Linked DNA regions of Homo sapiens: region 1 is linked to region 2. The links come from fine-mapping of genetic effects on gene expression. A gene starts in region 2. The other region holds a variant in brackets. All regions are shown on one strand. Distances are from middle to middle. Region 1 holds the start of WFIKKN1 (WAP, follistatin/kazal, immunoglobulin, kunitz and netrin domain containing 1). Region 2 holds the start of CIAO3 (cytosolic iron-sulfur assembly component 3).

Region 1 (13,380 bases), 110 kb before region 2:
TTTTGTGCTTTGTAAGTTACAGCTCAGTAAAAAATGATAGCAAAAAGGACACCCACTCTTAGGCCCAGCAGTTCTACTTCTGGGAATTTATCGTGTAGGTCGAGTTGATCAAAAAAAGGTGTAAACGTGCTCAGATGCATATTGCCACCGTTACCCAAGAGCTGGCGCAGTACCAGTTCACGAGCAGGCGGGGGTGCTGGGCCTGAGCTCAGGGCGTGCGGGTGGGAGCAGCGCCAAGTGCCTCCACCCCCTTGACCCCGCCCGCGAGGCATGAGCGGCACCGTGGACACGTCTGTAGACGCTGAGGAAACTGACTGTCAGGGCGGCTCCTAGAGGGGCCTAGAGCAGGGCGAGCGCGCGTCCTGACTCATCCCCTAGAGCACTCGCTCGTTCTTTTGTTTTGTTTTTTGAGACACGGTCTGGCTCTGTCGCCAGGCTGGAGTGCCGTGGCGCGATCTCGGCTCACTGCAACCTCCGCCTCCCGGGTTCACGCCATTCTCCTGCCTCAGGCTCCCGAGTAGCTAGAACTAGGTGTGCACCACCGCGTCCAGCTAATTTTTGTATTTTTAGTAGAGACGGGGTTTCACCATGTTGGCCAGGATGGTCTCCATCTCTTGACCTCGTGATCCGCCTGCCTCGGCCTCCCAAAGTGCTGGGATCGCAGGCGTGAGCCACGGCGCCTGGCCGAAGTCGCTAGTTTTTTAAAAATCAGATCAGTTTTAGAAAACAGAAGGCAGTGGAAGAGTCTGTTTGTCCCGTGCTCTGCCCCTTGAGACACGCAGCTGAGGGTGCTTAGGGTGCCGTTCGTTAGGCGGCTGCTGGTCACCGAGAGTCTCCTTTTGGTTTCTCACTCCGTGGTCATTTGGGTCCCTGCGGCCTCACTGTGACCCACGCCGGAGCAAGCCTCCGGGTCCTCCTGTGCCATCGCCCCTGCCCGTAACCCCTACTCCTCAGACATGGCCATCCCAGGAAGTGGGGGCCCGCTCAGGGCAGCAGCCGGGAGGTGTGGCCAGGGCCCCCCGCGTCACAGCACACTTGGAGCCTGAGGCAGCCCATCAGCCGGGAGGCGGGCCTTCTGCTCTCTTTCTAGAGTTTTCAGTGTCATGCGAATAGGGGTGTTTGCCACAGAAAACAGGTCAGCATCAAAAGTTACCCCTCTCCAGCCTTTTAGCATTTGTTTTATGTCCATATAAACTTCTTCAGTGTAATGTGTTGTGTGTTCATACTTTTATTTTTTAAAAATCATGCTGGGCCGGGCGCGGTGGCTCACGCCTGTCATCCCAGCACTTTGGGAGGCCGAGGTGGGCAGATCGGGAGGTCAGGAGATCAAGACCATCCTGGCTAACACGGTGAAACCCTGTCTCTACTAAAAAAAAATACAAAAAAATTAGCCGGGCATGGTGGCGGGCGCCTGTAGTCCCAGCTACTCAGGAGACTGAGGCAGGAGAATGGCGTGAACCCGGAAGCGGAGATCGTGCGGCTGCACTCCAGCCTGGGCGACAGAGTGAGACTCCGTCTCAAAAAAAAAAAAAAAAGAAATCATGCTGGGCTGGGCACAGTGGCTCACACCTCTGATCCCAGCACTTTAGGAAGTTGAGGCAGGAGGATCACTTGAGGCCAGGGGTTCAAGACCAGCCTGGGCAACATAGCAAGATCCCATCTCTAAAAAATGTTTAAAAAAACTTAGCCAGATGTGGTGGTTCACACCTGTATTCCCAGCCACTCAGGAAGCTGAGGCTCAGAATATCAGGCTGCAGTGAGCCATGATCGTGCCACTGCATGAACCCCAGCCTGGCTGACAGAGTGAGACCCTGTTTCAAAAAAAAAGAAAATGCCATCCGCAGTGCTGGGACCTGCGTTCTTACCTCACCTGGGTTGCACATCTCTCCTTGGCCAGCATGCACGCTTTTACATGCACTGCTGCTGTCTTCAGCATCTGCACGGTACATTTCACTGCCGCTTACTCAGCTGTCCCCTGAGGCTGGACATTTAATTTGTGTCTGGCTTGTCGTTGTTATCAGCGCCACTGTGACACACATCCTCAGTTACTTCTGAGTTGTGGGCTTGCCATGCGGGAGGTTGCCATGCGGGAGGTTGCCACTAGGGAGAGTGGGCTGTGTTGTACGCTTTGGTGGCCCACTCCCCAGTCTCTCCACCTCCCCCAGCAGCAAATGAGCCAGCCCCAGTCCCTGTGCCCCAACCTCCAGGGTTAACCCCTGGGTGTGCATTTGTTTATTCTGAATCTTATCATTTATCGCCCACCAGACTGACTTGGCCATCTCTGGCCTCGAAGGGTCTCCCTCAGCGAGAGGTGTCCTTCCTGAGCTGTCGCTCCATCCTGAGCAAGGCCTTCGCCCTGGGAGCTTAGTAATGTCAACCTTGTTCTAAACAGGACCTGGGGCTACACTTCAGTCTTCCAGATATCGAAAGATGGTTCTAAGAGGCTCTAAAAACCCTAATTTTCAGATGGACAGTGCCCTCTTCTTTCAGCCTCAGCCTCTTGTGTGATAGGCTCTTCCATTACGTGAAGGTTTTGTCAGCCTAGGAGTAGGGTGGATCACAGCTCATTGGCTGGATCTGGTTGCAGAATTGTAGGGTGGGAGTGGACGTTGGGGAGAGGCGGGCATAGGGGAATGGGCCTGTGATGTCACCGTTTCGCCCGACAGGGCTCTGAGTGTGAGCAGTGTGCTCCCCTGTGCTGCTGGAGAGCCATGACTGTCACTGCCGAGATATTTAGGGCAGGTGGAAACAGCCCAGAGCTGAGCTCCAAGTAATTGGTCTCTAAGGGATGTGGCAAAAAGTCCCCGTGGCAAAACCTGCTCTGCCTGGCTGGGGGAGCTTCACAGAAACTGTCCTGGAGGGACTGGCATTCTGCTCTGCAAGTTTTAGGTTGGAAAACTCAGAAATGCCCCCACTCAGCTCTGTCCCAGGTACTCCCGGGGGGATTCACTGATGGACTGGCCGAGAGGACACTTAGCTTCCACAGCTGCACGTCCCCCGGCTGCCAGAACCCCGCATCTGCCTGCCCAGGAAACTTCCACAGGCTGATGGCTCCAGGGGAGGGAGGGGAAGCGGCATTTCTGACACCATGGAAGGCGCCCACCCCCCTGCTGCAGTCCTGCCAGGTGAGGGCAGGGGTGAGGGGCAGGGCTGCACCAGCTCTGCCTGGAGGGCATGGCTCATCTGCCCATCCGCCAAGTAATAAGCATCCTTGGCCCTGCCCGGGAACTGAGGCCCCTGCACCTGAGCGTCCCTGGGCCTGGGCTGGCCATGCGTGTCAGTGACCCCTGATGACCCCCAAGTCTCTGTTGCAGGGGATCCTCTTGGTGTATGACATCACCAACCGCTGGTCCTTTGACGGCATCGACCGCTGGATCAAGGAGATCGATGAGGTAGGCCTGGGTCCGGGGAGCCCTCCCGGGGAAGGCAGGCTGGATGGAGGTACCTGGGCCCCGGGTAGGCTCTGGATTCCCGCCTGCCGCCCCTCCTGTGGCCCCGGCTCTGCACCCTGCACTGTCCCACGGCCTACGCCTGGGCATGCTGGTCACTGTGCACACGACAGTCGGGCGTGGAGCCCAGCAAGACCAGGAGCTACGGGGCCACCCGGAAGGGCTGCACTGTAGGGCCTGAGCCCTGGGGTCTGCCCACCTTGACCTCCGCCCACCTTGACCTCCCACGGCCCTCACCCCATCATAGTCCAGACAATGAGGGCGGGCCCTGCTGCGGCTGAGGGGTGGGTGGCACCCTGCGTTTGTGCGTCTGCTGAGTTCTGTGCCCCCAGCATGCACCCGGAGTCCCCCGGATCTTGGTTGGAAACCGGCTGCACCTGGCCTTCAAGCGGCAGGTCCCGACGGAGCAGGCCCGCGCGTACGCAGAGAAGAACTGCATGACCTTCTTTGAGGTCAGCCCCCTGTGCAACTTCAACGTCATCGAGTCCTTCACGGAGCTATCCCGCATCGTGCTCATGCGGCACGGCATGGAGAAGATCTGGAGGCCCAACCGAGGTGGGTGGGCGGGCGCCGGCCAGCCCTGAGGTCCCCGAACCTGGGCTGCCCTGATCACATGGAGGCTGAGGGGGGCCAGGGGCCAGTGAGGGAGGTTCAGGCAGGTCCCTTGGCAACGCGCAGTAGGGGCTCGGCCGGCGGCAGGTCAGTGACTTGGTAAGAGCAGCCTCGGGGGAGAGGCGGCAGCACTGGGGGGCACAGGAGCAGCTGATGACCCCCCCTCAGGGTGCCGCCGTGGCCGCTGCACTCTGCCATGCCTGTGGGTCCCTGGCATTGCTGGTGTGGGCAGTGTGTGCTCGCTCCTTCCTGGTTCCGGGGCTGGTCCTGCTGTCAGGGGAGCACAGGAGCCGTGCCTGCAGCTTTGTGTTGTGTCATCTGCTCTTCCTGGGTAGCCACATCCTTGATCAGAGGCTCCCGTGAAGCCCCCCTCAGGGAGGTGGTACTGTTGATTTTGTGGTGCCTCCCAGCAGGGTTCACTGCTGAACAGAGAGAGGGTGGCTGACGGTGTCACTGTCCTTCTTAAGAGGAAGCACGGGCCTGGCACGGTGGCTCACTCCTGTAATCCCAGCACTTTGGGAGGCCACAGCAGGTGGATCACCTGAGGTCAGGACTTCGAGACCAGCCTGGCCAACACGGTGAAACCCCGTCTCTACTAAAAATACAAAAATTAACCGGGCGTGGTGACGCACACCTGTAGTCCCAGCTATTCGGGAGGCTGAGGCAGGAGAATCGCTTGAACCCAGGAGGCGGAGGTTGCAGTGAGCGGAGATCGTGCCACGGCACTCCAGCCTGGCGACAGAGCGAGACCCGTCTCAAAAAACAAAACAAAAGAATGAGCGAGTGCTCTAGGGAATGAGTCAGGACGCGCGCTCCCCCGCTCTAGGGGATGAGTCAGGACGCTTGAAGGGCCAGATCACGCAGCCCTCACACTGGGAGCTGCATCATCCAGGCCAGGAACTGGGCAGAGTGCCCTCTGGAAGCCCCGCAGCAGCACCGCCCAGCGTGCCTGGCTTTAGGGAGCAAGGCAGGGGATGGGGTGCCAGTGGACACATCTGTGCTGGGCAGAGAAGTTTGGGCGTCCAGGTCCTCCAGGAGCCCAGCCTGGGAACACCTCTAGGAGTGTGGAGACCCCGCCAGGCTTCTCTTGGGCACCTCAGGTCTCCCTGCACAGGGCCTCCTCCCCCACAGCCCCATGGTCTGACACCCCCTCTGCCCCACAGTGTTCAGCCTGCAGGACCTCTGCTGCCGGGCCATCGTCTCCTGCACCCCCGTGCACCTCATCGACAAGCTTCCACTGCCCGTCACCATCAAGAGCCACCTCAAGTCCTTCTCGATGGCCAACGGCATGAACGCGGTCATGATGCACGGCCGTTCCTACTCCCTGGCCAGCGGGGCCGGGGGCGGCGGCAGCAAGGGCAACAGCCTCAAGAGGTCCAAGTCCATCCGTCCACCCCAGAGCCCCCCCCAGAACTGCTCGCGGAGTAACTGCAAGATCTCCTAGCGGGGATGGGCGGGGCCGCCTGTGCAGATGCCAGGAGGGCTCGAGCTGGACACTCCTGGCTGGACGCCAGGCCAGTGCCGCCTACGTGGAGACTGTCCACACAGCTGCCTCAGAAGCGCCGGGCTTTCCTCACACCTGAGCCGGGTGCGAGGAGGAGCATGCACGGACCAAGCGCGGCAGGCGGGAGGAGGGGGCGCGGCTGGGCTGCTGGTGCTTCCGGGAATCTTGGTCGGAAACAAGCCGGGCCTCCCCAGCTGCCTGGGCTTGACCGGCGGGGAGCCTGGTTGGCCTTTCTTATTTATATAGAGAACACTTCACTTTTTTGTACATTTTTAAGGGGCCTTCAGGGAAGCCTGGGTGTGGCCCGGTGGTGGTGCACTGGTGACTTCATGGCCACGCCAGCTGCGGGGACGCACTTGGGACTCCTCGAGAGGGGACTCGCGGCCGCGATGGCAAGGCATCCTGTGAATTCATGCGCTGCGAGTGGCGGGGCTGCCCAGAGGCCGGGGGAGCAGACAGGGCCGGTGCTCCCTCTGGAAGCTTGGGTGACCGGGGCCCTGGCTCCCACGGGATGGAGGGTGTGGTCCTGTGGTCAGAGCCCAAGCAGCACTCAGGAGAGGGGAGAAAGGAGGTGCACCTGGCAGCCCACATTTTTGTTGCTCCCCAAATCCCTCCCCACGTGGGGATGAGAACCTTCCTGCTGTGATGTGACACCTTCGGGGACATTGACCACTCAAAACTCAGATCATCTCGCCCACCCTGGAGAGTGCAGAGCTATCTGTAGACTTAGGAATACTTGATGGGCAGCGGTGCAGACCCCGGGCACCTGCGTGCAGCCTCCTGTTCTCGGCAGCTTCTGTCGCTGGCCCTGGGGTCCCCACAGCTGCAGCTCTCCTGTGAGGTTGCACGGCATCAGAACCATCCTGACCTTCTTAGGGACGTGCCTGGAACCACCTCGTCCACGTCCACGTCCACCTGGGGGCCTCGGGAGGCTAGGCCCCTCCTCAAAGGCCCACCAGCCCGGCGCTCATGCTGAGCCCCAGGCACGCAGGGCCGGCCACCTCTCTCCTGAAGCCATTGGCCGCTCCTCCACCCAGTGCTTCTGCCCATGCCTGCCCCAGCAGCCCCTCTGCACGGTCACCATCGCCTGGGCCTGCCCACAGCACTGGTGCTCACCTCTACCTCCTGTCCTCAGGCCGTGCGGCACGACATGGCCAGCACGCAGAAGGAGCCCTCCCGGGACCCAGGACCCCCCGTGGTGGACTCCGCGGCACATGCTTCCCAAGGTGGTCCCACGGAGGGTGTTACTGGGCACCAGTGGACTCGCCCCATGGCCCGTTCCTGGGAGATGAGGGCCGTGGCCTGCATGAACTACCAGATGAGTAAGGGAACCCCAGGCAGGCGGCCCTGCCACAGCCCCCAAAGACACTGGCCTCCTGCTCCAGCTTCCCTGTCCTGGCCCCACCTGTCCTGTTGCTGCCAGCAGGGCCCTTGTTTGGGATTATGAACAAACCTCACAGACTTTGAGGACCTGGATGGTCCTGCATTCACGGCATCAACACTACCCGCGCTGCTGTTAGACACTCCGCCATTCCTGGTTCTCTCCGAACCGTTCTTTGTACAGTAAATGTAATTCAGCTGTGGTCCCCACGTTTTGCTGTGTCTGGTGGGGTGGGTCTGGCAGTGGCGGTGCCCCGTGCCAGGGGCCAGTGCTGCTTCATACCCGGCAAACTGACCTCTGGCCTTTGTTTTGCCTGCTGTTCCCTGCGCTGACCGGGCTGACCTGCCGCGGTTGGCTGGGTTCGCCTCAAAGTGAGGGCTGGAGCTGGGCTGGAGCAGCTGGGCCTGGTCACGGCCATTCTCCTCTTCCCGGTGGATGGAATCCCAGCTGGGCTGTGCTGAGCCCTCGCTCACAGTCCCCGGCAGCAGATGGCCTGGGGCGGACTGTCCCCAACAGCAGCAGGACTCCAGAGGGCCAGGTCCTCCAGTCAGTCGGCCCGCTCAGCAGAGCCGCCTGCACGCTGGCCAATCTGGTGTCTGCTATGCCCGGCCCAGGGGGGTGTGGACGCCCCGGAGGTCACAGCTGAGCTGGAACGGGGCACTCCAGTTGGTACAGGGACCAGACCACAGCCTCTGGCTCAGGTGCCTCCCTGTGCTGTTTCGTGGGCATGTCCGGGCCTTAAGCCCCTCCCTGGCAGCTCCAGCCCAGCCGCCTGCTGCTGGGTCTGGCCTAGCTACCCCCACCCCCACGCTATCAGGGCCCACCCCCAGTCTCCTTGTAGAGCAGGGACTGGCGCCTGGAGCCGTCTCCGGGTCTCATTCTGACCAGACCAGGCTCCTGTTACCCTGCCTCCTGGGTCAGAGGTCAGACACAGGGTCAGGGGGACACTCCCATCCGGTCTCAAGAGAACCACTCCCTGAGGCCCCAGACATCTGGAGCCACAGAGGGTTTGGAAGGGTAGATTCCAGGCAGCCTTTTGTCCTGCTGCACCAGGCAGGCCAGCCCCCTGCCCTCCCCAACGAAGA[G/A]GAGCCAGCCTGGGGATGTGTGCCCCGCCGACGGGGGGCTGGGGCAGGGCAAGGCTCTGGTGCCCTGGGACACTTGCTCTTTTCAGCTGCAGACGCCCTTGCACTTGGCCTTCCCTCGGGCGGTGCCATCCCACGCGGAGCCACGTCCAGGGCTACACGGTGCGTGGGCCGAGGCTCCGGCATCAGCGTTTCGGGCTGTTCTTATGCTTGTGGTGGCCACAGGCCTCTTCCTGCTGCACCTGCCCCGCCTTGGGGACAGGCCTGAGCCCCAAGCCCGCTGCCTGGTTTCAGGGATGGGGTCTCTGGGAATGCAGTCCTGCCGGGTTGGGCCCCACTCCAACAGGGGCAGCAGAGCAGAGGAGGCCGGGCTGTGCTGGGCGTCCTGCAGACCCCTGTGCCCCTGAAACAGCCATGGAGGGGGGAAGGAACCTCGGAGCGGAGTGAAGCCCTCGGCCGCACGTGACCGTTGCCAGCCTGGACCTGGCCCGGGGGACCCAGGCTGTGGTCAGCCACGCTCTGCGGGGAGGGCCCGTGCCTGCCACCCCCATGGCATAGGAGCCTGGGGTCCAGAGGGCGCCAGGGACAAAAGCTGGGATCTGCTGGCCCTGCCCCCACCCTACTGAGGGTCGTCAAGGAGATTGATCTCAGCCCAGGGGTGGACGAAGGGGTTCAGGTTACAGGGTCCCCTCCCCTCCCCCTCTCCAGCCAGAGCCAGCCCTTCCCCGCCCCGGTGACCCTCATGGCCAGTGGCTCTGTGCTCATGGGCCTCTGGCCCCTCCCCAACCTCCTCCCCTCTGCCCTGTGCTGACCAGGGCCTGGGAGCCCCCGCACGGTTCAGACAGAGGGGCCAGGCTGAAGCTGGAGAGGAACCAGCGTCACACAGACGGCCTCTGAGAACTTGGAGACCCCGTTACCCACCCAGCAGGGGTGTCAGGACAAGCATCTGCTGCAGGCTTCAGCCTCAGGGGCAAAAGGGAGCCCCGGGGTCCTGGTGGGGGCACCGACCACAGGCCCGGAGGGTGGATGCCTGCAGGAAGCTGGGCTCTGTGGAGCCCGAGGAGGGGCTGGTGGCCACACCCCCCGGCCCCCTGGCTCGGCGGCCCTCATGCCCGCCCTACGTCCACTCCTGCCGCTCCTGCTCCTCCTCCGGCTGACCTCGGGGGCTGGCTTGCTGCCAGGGCTGGGGAGCCACCCGGGCGTGTGCCCCAACCAGCTCAGCCCCAACCTGTGGGTGGACGCCCAGAGCACCTGTGAGCGCGAGTGTAGCAGGGACCAGGTGAGTGTGGTCGGGCCGGGGTCCTGGGGCTCAGAGCAGCCAGCCTGGGCAAGACCCTGCTGGAGGTGCCACCTTCTGCCTGGGCTCCCCAGACTTCTGGGGGGTCTGGGTCTGGGCCCCTTAAGGGGCCCAGAGACACCCCCATCGTTGCCCTCATTTGTCTTAAGAATAAGAGCCCTCCCCACTCCAGCTTTCATGCTCCCCATGTGCCTCCACCCTGGGGCACCATCATCCTCGGCGACCACCCCCACCCCGTCACTGCCTCTCCTCCCACCCTCTCCTCCCACCCTCTCCTCCCATCCACTTCTCCCACCCCTTCACTGCCTCTCCTTCCATCCTCTCCTCCCACCCTCTCCTCCCATCCACTCCTCCCATCCACTTCTTCCATCCTCTTCTCCCACCCCGTCACTGCCTCTCCTTCCATCCTCTCCTATCCACTCCTCCCATCCACTTCTTCCATCCTCTTCTCCCACCCCATCACTGCCTCTCCTTCCATCCTCTCCTATCCACTCCTCCCATCCACTTTTTCCATCCTCTTCTCTCACCCCGTCATTGCCTCTCCTTCCATCCTCTCCTCCCATCCACTTCTCCCACCCCTTCACTGCCTCTCCTCCCACCCTCTCCTCCCATCCACTCCTCCCATCCACTCCTCCCATCCACTTCTTCCATCCTCTTCTCCCACCCCGTCACTGCCTCTCCTTCCATCCTCTCCTCCCACCCTCTCCTTCCATCCTCTCCTCCCACCCTCTCCTTCCATCCACTGTCCTCCCTGTCCTCCCACCCTCCTTCCATCCGGGACCAGTGCAGATGGTGGTGGGGGTGCTGCAGCCGATGTCCAGCCTTTGTCCTGGCCCGCACCACCTGCTGGGTGGTCCTGAGCACTGTACGCCCTCCTTGGGCCTCAGTTTCCTCGTCTGTACAACGTAAAGAATAACGGAACTTGCTTGTGGGTGTGAGGATTCTGGAAGGTAAGCCAGGTGGCACCTCTGGCGAGGTGGCTCCTCACACAGGATGGAAAGGACACTGAGTCCCCGGGGAGGCAGCCACAGAGCGGGGGGCTCCCTGCTACCCCACCTGGGCCTCCCCTTGCAGGGGCCAGGCCAGAGCCCCGGGGCGGGGGGCATTGGGGCTCCCACCTAAGTGTCCCCCATCCCCAGGACTGTGCGGCTGCTGAGAAGTGCTGCATCAACGTGTGTGGACTGCACAGCTGCGTGGCAGCACGCTTCCCCGGCAGCCCAGCTGCGCCGACGACAGCGGCCTCCTGCGAGGGCTTTGTGTGCCCACAGCAGGGCTCGGACTGCGACATCTGGGACGGGCAGCCCGTGTGCCGCTGCCGCGACCGCTGTGAGAAGGAGCCCAGCTTCACCTGCGCCTCGGACGGCCTCACCTACTACAACCGCTGCTATATGGACGCCGAGGCCTGCCTGCGGGGCCTGCACCTCCACATCGTGCCCTGCAAGCACGTGCTCAGCTGGCCGCCCAGCAGCCCGGGGCCGCCGGAGACCACTGCCCGCCCCACACCTGGGGCCGCGCCCGTGCCTCCTGCCCTGTACAGCAGCCCCTCCCCACAGGCGGTGCAGGTTGGGGGTACGGCCAGCCTCCACTGCGACGTCAGCGGCCGCCCGCCGCCTGCTGTGACCTGGGAGAAGCAGAGTCACCAGCGAGAGAACCTGATCATGCGCCCTGATCAGATGTATGGCAACGTGGTGGTCACCAGCATCGGGCAGCTGGTGCTCTACAACGCGCGGCCCGAAGACGCCGGCCTGTACACCTGCACCGCGCGCAACGCTGCTGGGCTGCTGCGGGCTGACTTCCCACTCTCTGTGGTCCAGCGAGAGCCGGCCAGGGACGCAGCCCCCAGCATCCCAGCCCCGGCCGAGTGCCTGCCGGATGTGCAGGCCTGCACGGGCCCCACTTCCCCACACCTTGTCCTCTGGCACTACGACCCGCAGCGGGGCGGCTGCATGACCTTCCCGGCCCGTGGCTGTGATGGGGCGGCCCGCGGCTTTGAGACCTACGAGGCATGCCAGCAGGCCTGTGCCCGCGGCCCCGGCGACGCCTGCGTGCTGCCTGCCGTGCAGGGCCCCTGCCGGGGCTGGGAGCCGCGCTGGGCCTACAGCCCGCTGCTGCAGCAGTGCCATCCCTTCGTGTACGGTGGCTGCGAGGGCAACGGCAACAACTTCCACAGCCGCGAGAGCTGCGAGGATGCCTGCCCCGTGCCGCGCACACCGCCCTGCCGCGCCTGCCGCCTCCGGAGCAAGCTGGCGCTGAGCCTGTGCCGCAGCGACTTCGCCATCGTGGGGCGGCTCACGGAGGTGCTGGAGGAGCCCGAGGCCGCCGGCGGCATCGCCCGCGTGGCGCTCGAGGACGTGCTCAAGGATGACAAGATGGGCCTCAAGTTCTTGGGCACCAAGTACCTGGAGGTGACGCTGAGTGGCATGGACTGGGCCTGCCCCTGCCCCAACATGACGGCGGGCGACGGGCCGCTGGTCATCATGGGTGAGGTGCGCGATGGCGTGGCCGTGCTGGACGCCGGCAGCTACGTCCGCGCCGCCAGCGAGAAGCGCGTCAAGAAGATCTTGGAGCTGCTGGAGAAGCAGGCCTGCGAGCTGCTCAACCGCTTCCAGGACTAGCCCCCGCAGGGGCCTGCGCCACCCCGTCCTGGTGAATAAACGCACTCCCTGTGCCTCAGACCTCCTGGCTTGCTGCTGCTGGTCGGGCGACCCTCATCCTTCCAGGTGCCCCATGCCCAGCCAGTTTCCGCTGGGGCCTTGACACCCACTGGGGCTTGGGCTTTGGTACAAGGTCACCAGGGAGTGCCTGTCCGCCCCTGCATCCCCAACCAGCTCCATCCTGCCTCAGCAGCTGTCTCGGCCCCAATCCCACTGCCCGAGCTCCAGCAGCAAGGATCAGGACGTCCCAAGCCCTTGACCCCACAGGAGACCCCGTCTCCCACCCAACCTCACAAGGTGCTCCTAGGAGGAGGTGGGGCAGACACCAGCAAGCCGGCAGCAGGACATGCTTTATTCTGAGCAGGCTGGGCCCTTCGGCCAGCGGCTGAGAGCACAGACTGGGTGGGGCTGTCGTCCACAAGGTCCGGCCTAGGGAGGCAGGGTTCGTGCCTCACAGAGCCTCCGGCAGGGATGCAGGTGTGCGGGGGTGAAGGAGGGGCTTAGTTTTTCCGGAAGATCAGGCATTTGTTGTTGGCTGGCATGTCCACCTGGAGAAACACTTTGCTGGAGGACGGCCCTCAACCCCTAGAGAGGTTGCCTGGGCCCCCGCTCCCCCACCTACCATCCTCTCCAGGAGCAGGCCACTGGCCTTTCCCAGGTCCTCCAGGAGGGCTGTGTCCCGAAGCCCCCATTCTGGGTTCCTGCAGAGGGTGGGGAGATGGAGTCATGGCCTGGGGGGTGCCACCCAAGCCACCTGCCACCTGAGCCAGACCCCCCGCCTCTAGCTCTGACCTGCATCTGAGCATCAGGTCAAAGTCCACGTTGCTCTGGGGGGAGATCTTCCCATTGATGGCATAGGGCTGTGGGCATGGGGACACAGCCCACTGGACCAAGGTCGGGGTATTTCCCAGAGAGCCTGGGACAGACTTGCAGGCTGGGGTTTGGAGAATGAAAGGGCACCCCCTCCCTGTCCCCAAGAGGGAGTCAGCCAAGGCCAGCCTGGTGGGCAAGGGGGTAGGGAGGCTGGCAGATGACCCAGGGAGGGGTACAGACTGGAAGTGGAGGGGAGGCCGTGCTGGTGGCTGGGCGGGGGGCAGGGAGCCCAGGAGGGAGGACTCTCAGCAGGGCAGGAGACAGCAGCTAGGACTGGGAGCGGGAGGCCCGCCGTGGACAGGCCCACTCACCCCGTAGGTGATGAGCAGGGCCCTGGGTTTGAGCAGGTGTCCTGCTGCTCTGAAGAGCCCCTGGTGAGTAGGAACAGGACGGCAGTGAGGTGCTGCCCCCAACAGAAGCCAGGCCCTGAGGCTGGAGACCCTCACCCCGACTGTGATGGGGGAGGCTGGAGACCCTCACCCCGACTGTGATGGGGGAGGCTGGAGACCCTCACCCCGACTGTGATGG
Region 2 (14,514 bases):
GGCGGTGTCGAAGACGAAGTGCACCCCTGGAAGGTGAAGGTGGGTGCCTGGTTAACCCCATGCGGGACGCCCACACGAGCACACGCCGGCGTGTGGACCACCATGGTGCTGCCAGGGCACGTGTGTCGCACCTGCTTGCCGTGCCAAAGCCCCGGCCCCACCGTGGGGACCTCCTAAAGCCACGTTGCGCCAAAGCCCCAGCCCCACTGTGGGGACCTCCTAAAGCCACGTTGCCTCGGCATCCCCTGTGAACCCAGGCCTTGGTTTCCCACCCCAGAGGCAGCCACCCAGCAGCTCAGTCCTCCACCCTCCCAGCTCTTCAGCGTGGCTGGTCCAGGGAATTGCCACGTGCGCTGCTCCCGGTGACCCTCCCTAGGGCACAGCTGGACGCAGCCTGCTGGACTGGCCCCTCGGACCCTGACTGTGCAGACCTACCATAGTGGCCACCCCTCACACACAGCAGGACTCCTGGAACACGCCAGCCAGCTCCAAGCCCAGCCATTAGAACTGCTCAGTAAACCTGCCTGATCGTGCCCTGGACCCAGCAGAGGCACCCGCGTGTGGGTCCCTCTCTCTCTGCCTGACTTGTCATTCCTCCCTCGCGTAACCCGTGGTCGGAGGACTCGCTGTGCCCCACTTGCCCGTCATCATCATCTCTAAGTAAAAATCTTTGAACTTGCTTCCTATTCTGGTGGGGACGAAATCCACACCTTCCATCTGGAGAACCATGGGCTGCCCCAGGCCAGGTTTTCCCTGGGACACCAGGTCAGGCTCCCAGTGCCAGAGCACTGCTCAGGCACCAACTGGATATGGGTCAGACAGGAGCCATGGGGCACCTGCCAGTGTCACCAGGTTTCCAGTGTGAGGGACCTGGGACACAGCTGGATGACAGGCAGTCTGCTGGTTACAAGGCGCACAGGCCTGCCTCACTGGGAATGAAGGGACTGGACATGGTGGTTACCTGTGAAAGGCACACAGTAACCATGAGGTCCAGCCCCTTCATTCCCAGTGAGACACCAGGCACTGGAGCCTAGTTAGCTGGGGGCTCTCAAGACACCCAGATCCTCCCCAAGCCCAGCTCCAGGCACATAACCAAAGTCAGCAGAAGCTGACCTTGGCTGAACCCAACAGAGCCCCGGAGAGAGTGCCTTAATATTATCAGCTAAAAAGTACAAGGAGTTGGTCAGCCCCAGCTTAGAGAAAGTGCACAGTCAGAATGCAGACGTGTTCTGTGAGAAGGCCCTGCTCTCAAATGTCAAATCAAAACTTCAGGCTGAGGTCACAGAGGGAATAAAGTTTCTGTAGCGCTGAAGTTCAGGGCTGGGTAGCGTGTCAGTGACTCAGAGGCGCGAGGGGCCTGGGCTTACTCAGACGCCCCCTTGATTTGGAGCGGCAGTGTTACCCCAGGTTCAAAGCCTACCTATTTTTTTAAAGAATGAGGTTAATTTCCTGGCAGTATCTGTAGGATTCAGCTGAAACCGTGCAGCCAGCGATGCTCTAGACTGTGGTGAGACCGAAACTACAACCAGCCTCTGCTGACTGGGTGCCGCCATCTGCAAAGCAAGGGGAAGACGCTGCTTACTCTGCTGGCCTTATGCTGATTCCTGGTGGCCAGAGCCGCACGGTGAGATGCTGTCAGCTGTGGAGAGGGCAGGCCAGCTCCATCAAGAGTCTTTTTTTTTTTTTTAACACAGAGTCTCACTCTGTTGCCCAGGCTGGAGTGCAGTGGTGCGATCGGAGCTCACTGCATGCAACCTCCGCCTCCCAGGTTCAGCCTCCTGGGTAGATGGGATTACAGGCGTGAACCACCGTGCCTGGCCAAGGGTATCGTTTTTTTTTGATGGAGTCTCACTCTATCACCAGGCTGGTGTGTAATGGCGCAATCTCGGCTCACTGCAACCTCTGTCTCCTGGGTTCAAGCGATTCTCCTGCCTCAGCCTCTCTAGTAGCTTGGATTACAGGCATGTGCCACCACACCTGGCTAATTCTTGTATTTTTAGTAGAGACGGGGTTTCACCATGTTGGCCACGGTGGTCTCGAACTCCTGACCTCAGGTGATCCACCCGGCTCAGCCTCCCAAAGTGCTGGTATGACAGGCGTGAGCCCCCGCGCCCAGTAGGGGTGTCATTTTGATGTATATTTAGAACCTGAAGTTTGGGGCCTGACACGTTCACCACTGGAGCCCACTGACAAATCACCAAGATTCCAAGCCTCAAAAAGGCAGGCGCCACCCGCACGACGGACGTCGGCACCACACGAGCTGCCCTTGGCAAAACGCGTTGTCGGCTGCTGGGATGGATTTCAGGTTAAAGCAGAGTCACCAGGCCGACCACTGCTTACCTTGTTAGCATCTAGAACCTTCTTCAGCTCCTCGTGGCTCTGCTGGGTGATAAGCACGGTCTCTGCGGAGGTGATGCAGCCGCTGCACGCCAGGCAGTCGTTTAGCGAGACCTTGGCCTTCTCCAGCCTCCGGGTCCCGCCGTCCTACAAGGGAGAAGAACCCGGTGCACAGGGGCCCCCTCTGCACGAGGACATGGAGACAGAGGATAGTGGAGTCCAGCTCATAACCGACAACCAACATGGCTGCTGGCTGGGCTTGTGTGCCGCTGAATTTTTAAAAATTAGGTATGTATTACAAAAATGCACACGCACGCTCTACAGTTTCATAATGCCGTCAAGTCTGCTTCTTGGTACCACTTGGTTAGTGCATCCGAATCACAGGACTAAGGCTTGCCACTGGTATCTCAGCAAAGCAGCAGCCACCCCACTCACCCATGGGGCCCTGGACGGGGTGCTGGCCCCGGTGCACACTCACAGGGCTGTAGGGCAGGAAAATGCCGAAGGTGGGCTCTGAAAGGAGGAGGCGGGAAAGCTGAGGACAAAGGAGGAAAGGACGAAGGCACAGGAAGAGGAGAGCAGAGGGAGGAAGCCTGGGAGCCTGGCCTCCGGTGGGCGGGGCAGAAACAACCGTCAGACTCGCCAAACAGATGCAGGAACAAGGTGTTCCAGTCGGGGGCCTCCGGGACATGCCTCAGCAACTTTTCTTACATGCAAAACGCACCCAGCTCGAGCTCCCCCAACTTCTCCTGCAAAGGCAGGAATGGTTTGAGCAGGGCCAGGGGTGCTGCAGTGGCCCGGAATACAGCCAGAGGAGTAAGGCGACTGGGTGGGAACTGTGTGGGAACCCCTCGCAGCCCAGCTCTCTGCTAGGCCTGTGTATCACAATCTGAGCTCGCCTTGTATTCCTACGTTGGTTCTGCCCCAAGGCACAAAGCCTTGCCTGCCACAGGGTGCTGGGCAGAGGCTGACAGGCTCCTCCAAACCAACTGCCACTGCACCGACAGCCACGCCTACCAGCACCCCAGCACCTTCCAGGGGTTCCCTTCGTTTGTGGGCTGGGCCCCCAGTGCTGGGCTGGAAATCGTCTCTTGGTGCAGTGGTTCATGAGATCAGGCAGACGTTTTTTAGAGTCCAAATGGCAGACAGGTGAATTTTAATAGTTTCTTTTTTTTTTTTTTTTTGAGATGGAGTCTCGCTCTGTCACCCAGGCTAGAGTGCAGTGGTGCGATCTCGGCTCACTGCAAACTCCGCCTCCCAGGCTCACGCCATTCTCCTGCCTCAGCTTCCCGGTAGCTGGGACTACAGGCGCCGGCCACCACGCCCAGCTAATTTTTTTTTTTGTATTTTTAGTAGAGACGGGGTTTCACCGTGTTAGCCAGGATGGTCTCGATCTCCTGACCTCGTGATCCACCCGCCTCGGCCTCCCAAAGTGCTGGGATTACAGGCCTGAGCCACCGCGCCAGGCCCAGTTTCTTTATTTTTTTGAGATGGAGTCTCTGTCTCTCAGGCTGGAGTGCAGTGGAGCAATCTTGGTTCACTGCAGTCCCTATCTCCCAGGTTCAAGTGATTCTCCTGCCTCACCCTCTTGAGTAGCTGGGATTACAGGCATGCGCCACGACACCCAACTAATTTTTGTATTTTTAGTACAGATGGGGGTTGGCCAGGCTGGTCTCGAACTCCTGACCTCAGGTGATCCGCCCCCCCTACCCTGGCCTCCCAAAGTGCTGGGATTACAAGCGTGAGCCACCGCGCCCAGCCTGAATTTTAACAGTTTCATCAGGATCTTATCACTTAGAGAGGAAGTACTATTCTTTAAGAATGAGGGGTCTGGGCTGGGCGCGGTGGCTCACGCCTGTAATCCCAGCACTTTGGGAGGCCAAGGCGGGTGGATCACGAGGTCAGGAGATTGAGACCATCCTGGCTAACACGGTGAAACCCCGTCTCTACTAAAAATACAAAAAACATTAGCTGGGCGTGGTGGTGGCCGCCTGTAGTCCCAGCTACTCGGGAGGCTGAGGCAGGAGAATGGTGTGAACCTGGGAGGCAGAGCTTGCAGTGAGCCGAGATCATGCCACTGCACTCCAGCCTGGGCCATCGAGGGAGACTCTGTATCAAACAAACAAACAAACAAACAAACAAAAGAACGAGGGGTCTGAATTAGAAAATCTTACATGGTTAGAACTAGGGGGAACAGGCAGACGCAGACAGGATCCACCATCTCTGCAAATAGCCCCTCTGCTGAGCAGATCAAGCTGTTTGGCCTGGGTGCTGCTCATTCACCTGCCCCAGGCACCCTGACCCCCAGCCTCCCAGATGGCAGGTGAATTCGACCAGTGGGAAAAGACTGGTGAGACCTGGAGTGTCTCGGGGTCACCGCTCTGTGACGGGAGGAAGCAGAGAAAAGTGTTTCGGATCAGCCGGGCAGGAGAGATGGTGGAGCAGCCTCCTGTGCCTTACTTGGTTAATTTGGAAGTAGCTCCCGTCATCTTCAATGCGAATCTTGGCCACGCCACTTCCCGCCCTTTTTTCCACTTTGACAGGCTTGATGCACTCCTAGAGCAGGAAGAGACCCCAAATCAGCCCCTGTGAGTGGGCGGAGGTTCCCTGGGAGGCCAGGCCTCAAGGATGGCTGCCCAGCCGCACAGCCTGAAGGCTCTGCCAGGAGCCATGCACTCAGGGACTGAGGCTGGTCCCACCGTCTTCTTCCTGCCCCACTGCTCTCACCCAGGGATCGGGTTCCCAACATCCTGCGGCACTGAAGTTCCCAGTGTGCAGGAAGGCCAGTGCTAACAGCGCCTGCAAACTACCCACCTGCGGAGACACCACCAACACTGACCTTCACCCTTCACGTGAACAGGGGGCGTGACCACCACAGAGACCAGAGTTGCACTGCCCATCGAGAGGACGTGTGCTTGGATCTGTTTGGAGACCACCTCCTGCTCAGTGCCCGGGAAACAAGTGGATTTCTCTCTCTTCTCCTTGAGAACCCTGGCAGCCCAGAAAGCCGCCTCCCAGCTCATCCCTGCCGGAAGCGCTCCCAGCAGCCCGCCTCTCGCCCTGCTCAGCTCTGGCCCCGCGGGGCTGTTGGACATGGACAGGCAGGTGCACCCAGAAAAGGGCGCCTGCAGCCTCCCGGGTTCAAGGGTAGCTGTCCGGCCCACCAGGGCGACGTTAAGGACAGCTCTACTGAGGAGCCACTGCGGGGCGTCTAGCGGGCCGCCCCTACTGCCCTCAAATGAGGTGGGGTCCCCACCGCACCCGTTTATGCAGATGCAAAGGCTGTGGCTTGGGGGTCCTGAGGCCTGACAAGGCGTCCTGCGCAGGGGAAGGGGAAGAGGCCCCGGCCCGGGCCCCGCCGCCCTCCAGCTGCGACCCAGGGGTCGGGTTAGGGTTAGGGATGTGTGGGAGCCGCCTCTGCTGCCTCCTCTGGGTTGGGCAGGCCGGCGCGAGCCCGCGACCACGGGACCCTCCCACGCAGCCCGCCCGGACACCATGGGGCACAGGAGCGGGTTGGGGGGCGCCGCCCTCCCTGGCCTCAGTTTCCTTGTTGGTAAGAAGCGGGCCTCAGTGTCTGAGGCCCCGCGCCCGGGTCGATAGAGTCCCTGACGGCCCAGACCGGGCTCCCGGGATTCGGATCTCATTCCTCAGGGGAGGAAGTGGGGCGCAGAGCAATTTCCCTCCGCGCGACAGGGCACCGAGCGCAGCCTCGACCCCGCCCGCCCAGGCCGGCCCACCTGAGACGGCCCGATGAAGTCATCCAGGTCCGTCAGCTGCAGCGCCCCGCTGAAGGGCGACGCCATGACGGCCGCACTGCCGCCGCGCGCAGGTGTCGCTAAACGGCGCGAAACGAAGTGGCTGGTTCCGCCACGCTGCCGGAAAGCGCCCCCAGGACGCATGCGCACCTCGTCCCGGGGCCGGCGCCCTCTGCTGACGAGCCCCGGCGCTGCGGCTCCCCGCCCACCTCGCGGGAACCCGGGACCTACCGCTTCGTCCACCTCCCGCGCGCCCCAGGCCCCGGGTTGGGGTGCAGGGGGCGCAGGGGTTGGTCGGGCCAGCGCCGCAGCTCCGGCCCCGGAGTCTCTCCGCCTTCACAAGGAAGCGGAGGGGATCTGGCTCCGTCCATTTCCTCATCCTCTGCGTACCTGCGGACCAGGTGCTCCCGGATGCAACCCAAGAACCCGGAACGCGCCTGGCACACAGGAGGCGCTCAGCTCGTGTTGGGGAATTCAGGCAGGGAAGAAAGCATGGATAGGCACGAGGTCTCCCCTTCCTGGGGAGCCGCTCCCAGGGCCTCCAGCCCCTTTTTCTGTTATCTTGGAGACCAGTCTGGAAAAGTCCATGCCCCTGGGAGACCCTGAAACAGGACCCTGTGGGCCGACTCGCTTTTCGTTTTTTTCTTTTTTTGAGACAGAGTCTCGCTCTGTCGTCCAGGCTGGAGTGCAATGGCGCGATCTCGGCTCACTGCAAGCTCTACCTCCTGGGTTCAAGCGATTCTCCTGCCTCAGCCTCCCGAGTAGCTGGGACTACAGGCGCCCACCACCACGCCCGGCTAATTTTTTGTATTTTTAGTAGAGACGGGGTTTCACCGTGTTAGCCAGGATGGTCTCGAACTCCTGACCTCGTGATCTGCCCGCCTCAGCTTCCCAAAGTGCTGGGATTACAGGCGTGAGCCACCGCGCCCGACCCCGACTCACTTTTTTTTTTTTCTTTTTTGAGACAGAGTCTCACTCTGTTGCCCAGGCTGGAGTGCAGTGGCGCGATCTCGGCTCACTGCAACCTCTGCCGCCTGGGTTCAAGCAATTCTCCTGCCTCAGCTTCCCGAGTAGCTGGGATTACAGTCACCTGCCATTGCATCCGGCTAATGTTTGTAGTTTTAATTAGAGACTGGGTTTCACCATGTTGGCCAGGCTGGTCTTGAACTCCTTACCTAGTGATCCACCCACCTCAGCCTCCCAAAGCGCTGGGATTACGGGCATGAGCCACCGCGCCTGGCCAGTTACATGTATATCTGGCATCATATGGCCAGTTACATGTCTAATGGCCAGTTTTATGGGGACTTTTCAGGAAACTCCTGGATCGAGGCTGGCATCTTTCCGGCCCAAGCAGGCTCAGCCCATGGAGATCTCACAGTGGCAACATCCTAGGTCCCAGCCTGCGCCGCACCCTCCCCAGGGTTCTAGGCCCTGATTCTGACCACATGTCCCCACCTGGATGCGGCCTGGGCACTCCTGCACCTGCCTGTGGGGTTTGGGCCACCAGCCTGTGTGGCCTTCTCCATCACCTGCAGCTGCTCCTCTCGGCCAGACAGGACTTTCTTCTGCTGCTGCACGGAGGAGCTTTCCCCAGCACCTGGGCCAGGTGAGCTTCCAGGTCCCAGCCATCCCGCCACCTGGCAATACCTGGCCGAGCTTGGAGATTAGGGGCTGAAATATCTTCTATTAAAAATAGAACAGGGGGTCGGGTGCGGTGGCTCACCAGCGCTTTGGGAGGCCCAGGTGGGTGGATCACCCGAGGTCAGGAGTTTGTGACCAGCCCAGCCAACATGGTGAAACCCCGTCTACTAAAAATACAAAAATTAGGCTGGGCGCGGTGGCTCACGCCTGTAATCCCAGCACATTGTGGGGCTGAGGCAGGTGGATCATTTGAGGTCAGGAGTTCAAGACCACCCTGGCCAACATGGTGAAACCCCATCTCTACTAAAAATATAAAAATTAGCCCAGCATGGTGGTTTGTGCCTGGAATCCCAGGTACTAAGGAGGGTGAGGCAGGAGAATCGCTTGAGCCTGGGAGGTGGAGGTTGTGGTGAGCTGAGATAGCACCATTGCACTCTAGCCTGAGCAACAGACTAAGACACTGTCTCAAAAAAAAAAAACTTATCAGGCGTGGTGGCACGTGCCTGTAGTCCTAGCTACTCGGGAGTTTGAGACAGGAGAATCACTTGAACCCAGGAGGCAGAGGTTGCAGTGAGCTGAGATCGCACCATTGTACTCCAGCCTGGGCGACTGAGCGAGACTCCATCTAAAAGAAGAAAGAAAAACAAAACACGAGGCCGGGTGCGATGGCTCACGCCTGTAATCCCAGCACTTCGGGAGGCCGAGGCCGGCAGATCATGAGGTCAGGAGATCAAGACCATCCTGGCTAACACAGTGAAACCCTGTCTCTACTAAAAATATAAAAAAAAAAAAATTATCCGGGTGTAGTGGCGGGCGCCTGTAGTCCCAGCTACTGGGGAGGCTGAGGCAGGAGAATGGTGTGAACCCGGGAGGCGGAGCTTGCAGTGAGCCGAGACGGCACCACTGCACTCCAGCCTGGGCGACAGGGCGAGACCCCGTCTCAAAAAAAAAAAAAAAGAAAAAAAATACGAAAGAAACTTAGTGCCACTGAAATGCAGTGGAGTGGGTTTACAGAAAATGTGAGAGTGAGGAGGGCTGTTGGGATAAGGGAAGGGTCTTTAGGTGAGCTTCCTCTTGCTGCTCCGGGTGGAGCTGGGGCGGGGTTCTTCATTAACTCACAGACATTTCCCTGGAGCCCCTGAGCTCTAGTGCCAACCTCGTGCCTCTGGGGTCCCTGCTTTCTGTTTTGCAGATTGTTTAATCATCGTCATTAGCGAGTATTTACCATGCACTTCCCACGTGCTAGTCCCTGAGCCAGGGCCAGGGAACCCAGGGAGGGCACGGGGGGACACGAGGGCCGGCTGGGGACATAGGGCGAGGCCGGCCGGACCCCAGGTTGCTGTGATGCTGTGACTGTGTATGGGCACCCCCTTTCCCTGGGCTGGAAGGGATGCCTGGTGGAGGCGTCTGCTCTGCGGGCACCCACAGGACCCCCCTTTGCCTACAGCCGCCCCCGGTGGTTGGGTGGGAGGTTGCATGCTAGCATCCTCTTGCTGGTCCGGGGTCATGATACTGGTAGAGCCACCTGGTCCCCTCTCCTGGGTTGGTGTCAGAGCTTCACCCTCGGAAGGGATCATCCTGTGCCTGTCTCCTGAGGCTCCCGTAACAAATGACAACACGCCGGGGTGAAAGCAACAGAGATGCGTCCCCTACTAGCTGTGGAGGCCACACATCTGAGGTCATGGTGTCATTCACCGTGCTCCCTCTGGAGGCTGCAGGGAGGACCCTTCCTGCTTTCTCCAGCTTCCAGGGGCTCCAGTTGTCCTTGGTCTGTGACTGTGTCGCTCCAGCACATTTTTTTTTTCTTGATACAGTGTCTTGCTCTCTTCCCAGGCTGGAGTGCAGTGGTGTGATCACAGCTCACTATAGCCTCAGCCTCCCGGGCTCAAGAGATCCTCCGGCCTCAGCCTCCCAAGTAGCTGGGACTACAGGTGTGCGCCACCATGCCTGGCTATTTTTACTGTTATTATTATTATTATTATTCTTTTGAGATGGAGTCTCACTCTGTTGCCCAGGCTGGAGTGCAGTGGCACCATCTCAGCTCACTGCAAGCCCCACCTCCTGGGTTCACGCCATTCTCCTCTCTCAGCTTCCCGAGTAGCTGGTACTACAGGCGCCCACCACCACACGTGGCTAATTTTTTTGTATTTTTACTAGAGACGGGGTTTCACCATGTGTTAGCCAAGATGGGCACAATCTTCTGACCTCGTGATCTGCCGGCCTCGGCCTCCCAAAGTGCTGGGATTATAGGCATGAGTATTATTATTATTTTTTGAGACAGAGTCTCACTCTGTCACCCAGGCTGGAATGCAGTGGCACAAGCTTGGCTCACTGCAACCTCTGCCTTCCGGGTTCAAGCAATTCTGCCTCAGCCTCCCAAGTAGTTGGGATTACAGGCTCCTGCCACCACGCCTGGCTAATTTTTGTATTTTCAGTAGAAATGGGGTTTCACCATGTTAGCCAGGATGGTCTTGATCTCCTGACCTCATGATTTGCCCACCTCAGCCTTCCAAAGTGCGGGGATTACAGGCGTGAGCCACTGCACCCGGCCTTTATTATTATTTTTTTTTGAGACGGAGTTTCGCTCTTGTTGCCCAGACTGGAGTACAGTGGCAGGATCTTGGCTCACTGCAGCCTCTGCCTGCAGGATTCAAGCGATTCTCCTGCCTCAGCCTCCTGAGCAGCTGGTACTACAGGAGTCCATCACCAGGCCTAGCTAATTTTTATATTTTTATTAAAGACGGGGCTGGGCGCGTTGGCTCACACCTGTAATCCCAGCACTTTGGGAGGCCGAGGCCGGCGGATCACAAGGTCAGGAGATCGAGACCATCCTGGCTAACGCGGTGAAACCCCGTCTCTACTGAAAATAGAAAAAATTAGCTGGGCGTGGTGGCGGGTGCCTGTAGTCCCAGCTACTCAGGAGGCTGAGGCAGGAGAATGGCGTGAACCTGGGAGGTGGAGCTTGCAATGAGCTGAGATCGCACCACTGCACTGCAGCCTGGGCAACAGAGTGAGACTCTGTCTCAAAAAAAAAAAAAGACAGGGTTTCACCATGTTGGCCAGGCTGGTCTCGAACTCCTGGGCTCAAGTGATCCTTCCACCTCGGCCCCCCAGTGCTGGGATTACAGCGTGAGCCACTGGGCCTGGCCTGGTTGTATCTTTTGGGAGGCTGCCCTTCAGCCACCACAGCCCTCATTTCAGGTTCTTGTGGGACCCTCGACAAAGAGATGCTTTCCACCTCCTAACCGGGTATGTGGCTCAGGGAGGCTGTGTGGGGGCTGGGCTGGCCCGCAAGGGGCGGGCGGGGTGGAGGTGGGGCCTGTGAGTCCGGTGGACGGGATGCAGCCCAGGTTGGCTGAGGGCCGGCAGGTGGTGCTGCGGAGCCCACGGGGGCCGGCAGGTGCCACAACCCCGTAAAGGGGGAATAAACCCCCCTCAGGTCAGGAGTTCCTGGGGAGGAGAGCTGAGTTTTCCAAAATTAACTAATTTTTCCTGAACGTCTGATTTCAAAACGTTTACTGAGCTTTCCTGTGTTCCATCAAGGCCTCTGCTTCCAGGAACTGGGAAAGGAGAGGTGGGGTCACTGCGGGTCTGTCTGGCTGGGTGGCAGGAGGGGAGAGGTGGGGTCACTGCGGGTCTGCAGGGCTGCAGGAGGGGAGAGGTGGGTTCACTGCGGGTCTGCCTGGCTGGGCAGCAGGAGAGGAGGTGGGTTCACTGCGGGTCTGCCTGGCTGGGCAGCAGGAGAGGAGGTGGGTTCACTGCAGGTCTGTCTGGCTGGGCAGCAGGAGGGGAGAGGTGGGGTCACTGCGGGTCTGCAGGGCTGCAGGAGGGGAGAGGTGGGGTCACTGCAGGTCTGTCTGGCTGGGCAGCAGGAGAGGAGGTGGGTTCACTGCAGGTCTGTCTGGGCGGGCTGCAGGAGAGGAGGTGGGGTCACTGCGGGTCTGTCTGGGCGGGCTGCAGGAGAGGAGGTGGGTTCACTGCAGGTCTGTCTGGCTGGGCAGCAGGAGAGGAGGTGGGTTCACTGCAGGTCTGTCTGGCTGGGCAGCAGGAGGGGAGAGGTGGGGTCACTGCGGGTCTGTCTGGCTGGGCAGCAGGAGGGGAGGTGGGTTCACTGCGGGTCTGCCTGGCTGGGCAGCAGGAGAGGAGGTGGGTTCATTGCGGGTCTGTCTGGCCGGGCTGCAGGACGTGCACTCAGACTCAGCCCGTGTGGTTTCCAAGGCCCGAAGGACACACCAGGCCAGATGCCCCCATCACACACAGGGCTAGGGAGCAGCAACTGGGGTCCACGGTGGTTCCGCCCCACCCCACCCCGCAGGGCCACCCTCCGAGAGCAGTGCTATTGTTGGTTCTCGCCATAGAACCTGGGTTTAGGTTTGGGGGCCCAGGGGCTGCCTGGTGGGGGGGTGGGGTGATATGGTTTGGTTCTGTGTCCTCACACAAATCTCATCTCGAACTGTAATCCCTGTGTCGAGGGAGGGAGGTGATTGGATCATGGAGGAGGGTTTCCACATGCTGTTCTCGTGATGGTGAGTTCTCACGGGGGCTGCTGGTTTATAAGTGGCAGCTCCCCCTCCACTCTCTCGCCTCCTGCCACGTGAGACGTGCCTGCGTCCTTCACCTTCCGCCATGATCGTAAGTTTCCTGAGGCCTCCCCAGCCCTGTGGAACTGGGAGTTAATTAAACCTCTTTCTTTTATTTTTATATTTTTTATTTTTGAGGCAGAGTCTCACTCTTGTTGCCCAGGCTGGAGTGCAGTGGCGCAATCTCAGCTCACTGCAACCTCTGCCTCCTGAGTTCAAGCGATTCTCCTGCCTCAACCTCCGAGTAGCTGGGACTACAGGTGCCCACCACCACACCCGGCTAATTTTTGTATGTTTAGTTGAGACAAGGTTTCACCATGTTGGCCAGGCTAGTCTTGAACTTCTGACATCAGGTGATCCGCCCGCCTCGGCCTCCCAAAGTGCTGGGATTACAGGTGTGAGCCACTGCGTCCGGCCAGACCTCTTTGTTTATAAATTACCCAGTCTCAGGCAGTGTCTTTATAGCAGTGTGGGAATGAACTCACATAAGTGGGGAAGGTGAATCCTCCAACTCCCCCACCTGTGTGGCCACTGATGTGCAGGACACCAGGATGAGCTTCCCAGAGGGCCAGAGCCAGGCAACAGAGTGCAGGGTAGGCCAGCATGGCCTTGGGGCGGCGTGGTACCCAACAGGAATGTGGAGATGAGGCCCGAGGTGGCGGCTCACACTGGTAATGGCAACACTTCGGGAGACTAAGGTGGGAGGATCGCTTGAGCCCAGGAGTTTGAGAGCAGCCTGGGCAACATATTGAGACCTCGTTCCTACAAAATAATGAGTCGGTGCAGTGATGCATGCCTGTGGTCCTAGCTACTCAGGAGGCTGAGGTAGGAGAATTGCCTGGACCCGGGAGGTCGAGGCTGTAGTGAGCCGTTATTGCACCACTGCACTCCGGCCTGGGCAACAGAGCAAGACCCCATCTCAAATAACAGTACAAAATAAGTATGGAGATGCTGGCTCCTGTGGGAAGCTGGGTGGACGTGGGGGGCACACCCTCCAGTCTGCAGAAACTTCCCGCCGCTCGGGCTGATGTGCTCGAGGGCTCCCGAGGCCCTGCCTCCCGGGTGGCAGAGGGAACATGGGAAAGGCTGCCGGGCCCCGGGCTCGCCGGTGGGTGGCCCCGTGCAGCCTGTTATTCATAAAACTTGGAGAGAAAGTGCCTTTTTGTAGGAAAGTGTGGGGTGCTGGCGGCCATTTCCACCTGTGGTTGGACCCAGACTGCCTCCCCGCGTGTGGCCCATGCCCCACCCCACACGCACCCCCGCCCTCTGTCAAGCAGGACTCGGGCTCTCCGTTGGCCGAGCAGACGTTTTATTTGTGGAACGGAATTGCTGTCGGGATGGGCGTGGGGTCGTTAGCAGCATAATCAACACCCACATCCACCCTGGGGGCAGCCACGTCTTGTCAACAGGTGGAGGCCGTGACATGCTGCAATTAGCAGCTAATGAGGAGGCCTGTGTGACCCACGCCTCCGTCACAGGTGCGCAGTGAGCTGTGGAAACGCCGACAATTTAAAATAGTCGAACAGGGCCGGGCGTGGTGTCTCAGGCCTGTAGTCCCAGCACTTTGGGAGGCCAAGGTGGGAGGATCACCTGAGGTCAAGTGTTCGAGACCAGCCTGGCAACATGGCGAAACCCTGTCTTGACTAAAATACAAAAAAATTAGCCGGGCGTGATGGTGCACGCCTGTAATCCCAGCTACTCGGGAGGCCGAGGCAGGAGAATCGCTTGAACCCGGGAGGCGGAGGTTGCAGTGAGCCGAGATTGCGCCACTGCACTCCAGCCTAGGCAACAGAGCGGGACTCCATCTCAAAACATAAAAATAAAGTAGTGGAAAAAAACTATAGGAAAAAGAAAAGAAAAAGCTAAAAAGAAAATTTAACATGTGAAAAAGCGTACTGGCCGGGTACAGTGGCTCAGGCCTGTAATCCCAACACTTTCAGAGGCCCAGGCGGGCGGGATCTCTTGAGCCCAGGAGTTTGAGACCAGCCTGGGCAACATGGTGAGATTCCATCTCTATTTTAAAAAAAAAAAAAAAAATCATGTTACAGGAATTCTAGGAATGGACTGTGGGCAGTTGCATGGAGATGGCCTGTAAGAGCTGGCCAACTTTCACAACCTTCAGCTTTATTTTGAAATCTTGCATTGAGATGAATAACCGCTTTTCTTTCTTTTAGGACATAGCTAACCCCAGAGAATATGTT

The links. PIP is the estimated chance that this variant, and not a neighbour inherited with it, causes the effect.
Region 1: its variant is fine-mapped to the expression of CIAO3 in whole blood (TOPMed, PIP above 0.99).

What each region holds. Positions count from the first base shown.
Region 1 is chr16:622,118-635,497 of GRCh38, forward strand. RAB40C (RAB40C, member RAS oncogene family) reads left to right here. Exons shown (of 6, transcript NM_021168.5): 4 at 3,315-3,392; 5 at 3,782-4,004; 6 at 5,225-7,151. The coding sequence ends at 5,505. WFIKKN1 (WAP, follistatin/kazal, immunoglobulin, kunitz and netrin domain containing 1) reads left to right here and starts at 8,868. Exons shown (of 2, transcript NM_053284.3): 1 at 8,868-9,307; 2 at 10,465-12,000. The coding sequence starts at 9,137. The coding sequence ends at 11,940. METTL26 (methyltransferase like 26) reads right to left here. Exons shown (of 6, transcript NM_032366.5): 3 at 13,164-13,223; 4 at 12,772-12,839; 5 at 12,602-12,680; 6 at 12,313-12,527. The coding sequence ends at 12,480. RefSeq lists enhancers at 1-337, 5,290-6,023, 7,493-8,226, 7,752-8,046, 8,227-8,961 and 1 more and a silencer at 5,410-5,660. The variant G/A (reference allele first, on the strand shown) is at 8,032.
Region 2 is chr16:734,846-749,359 of GRCh38, forward strand. CIAO3 (cytosolic iron-sulfur assembly component 3) reads right to left here and starts at 6,152. Exons shown (of 11, transcript NM_022493.3): 1 at 6,075-6,152; 2 at 4,798-4,893; 3 at 2,341-2,484; 4 at 1,421-1,553; 5 at 1-26. The coding sequence starts at 6,140. RefSeq lists enhancers at 2,844-3,138, 5,699-6,294 and silencers at 5,478-5,777, 6,148-6,207, 6,278-6,557.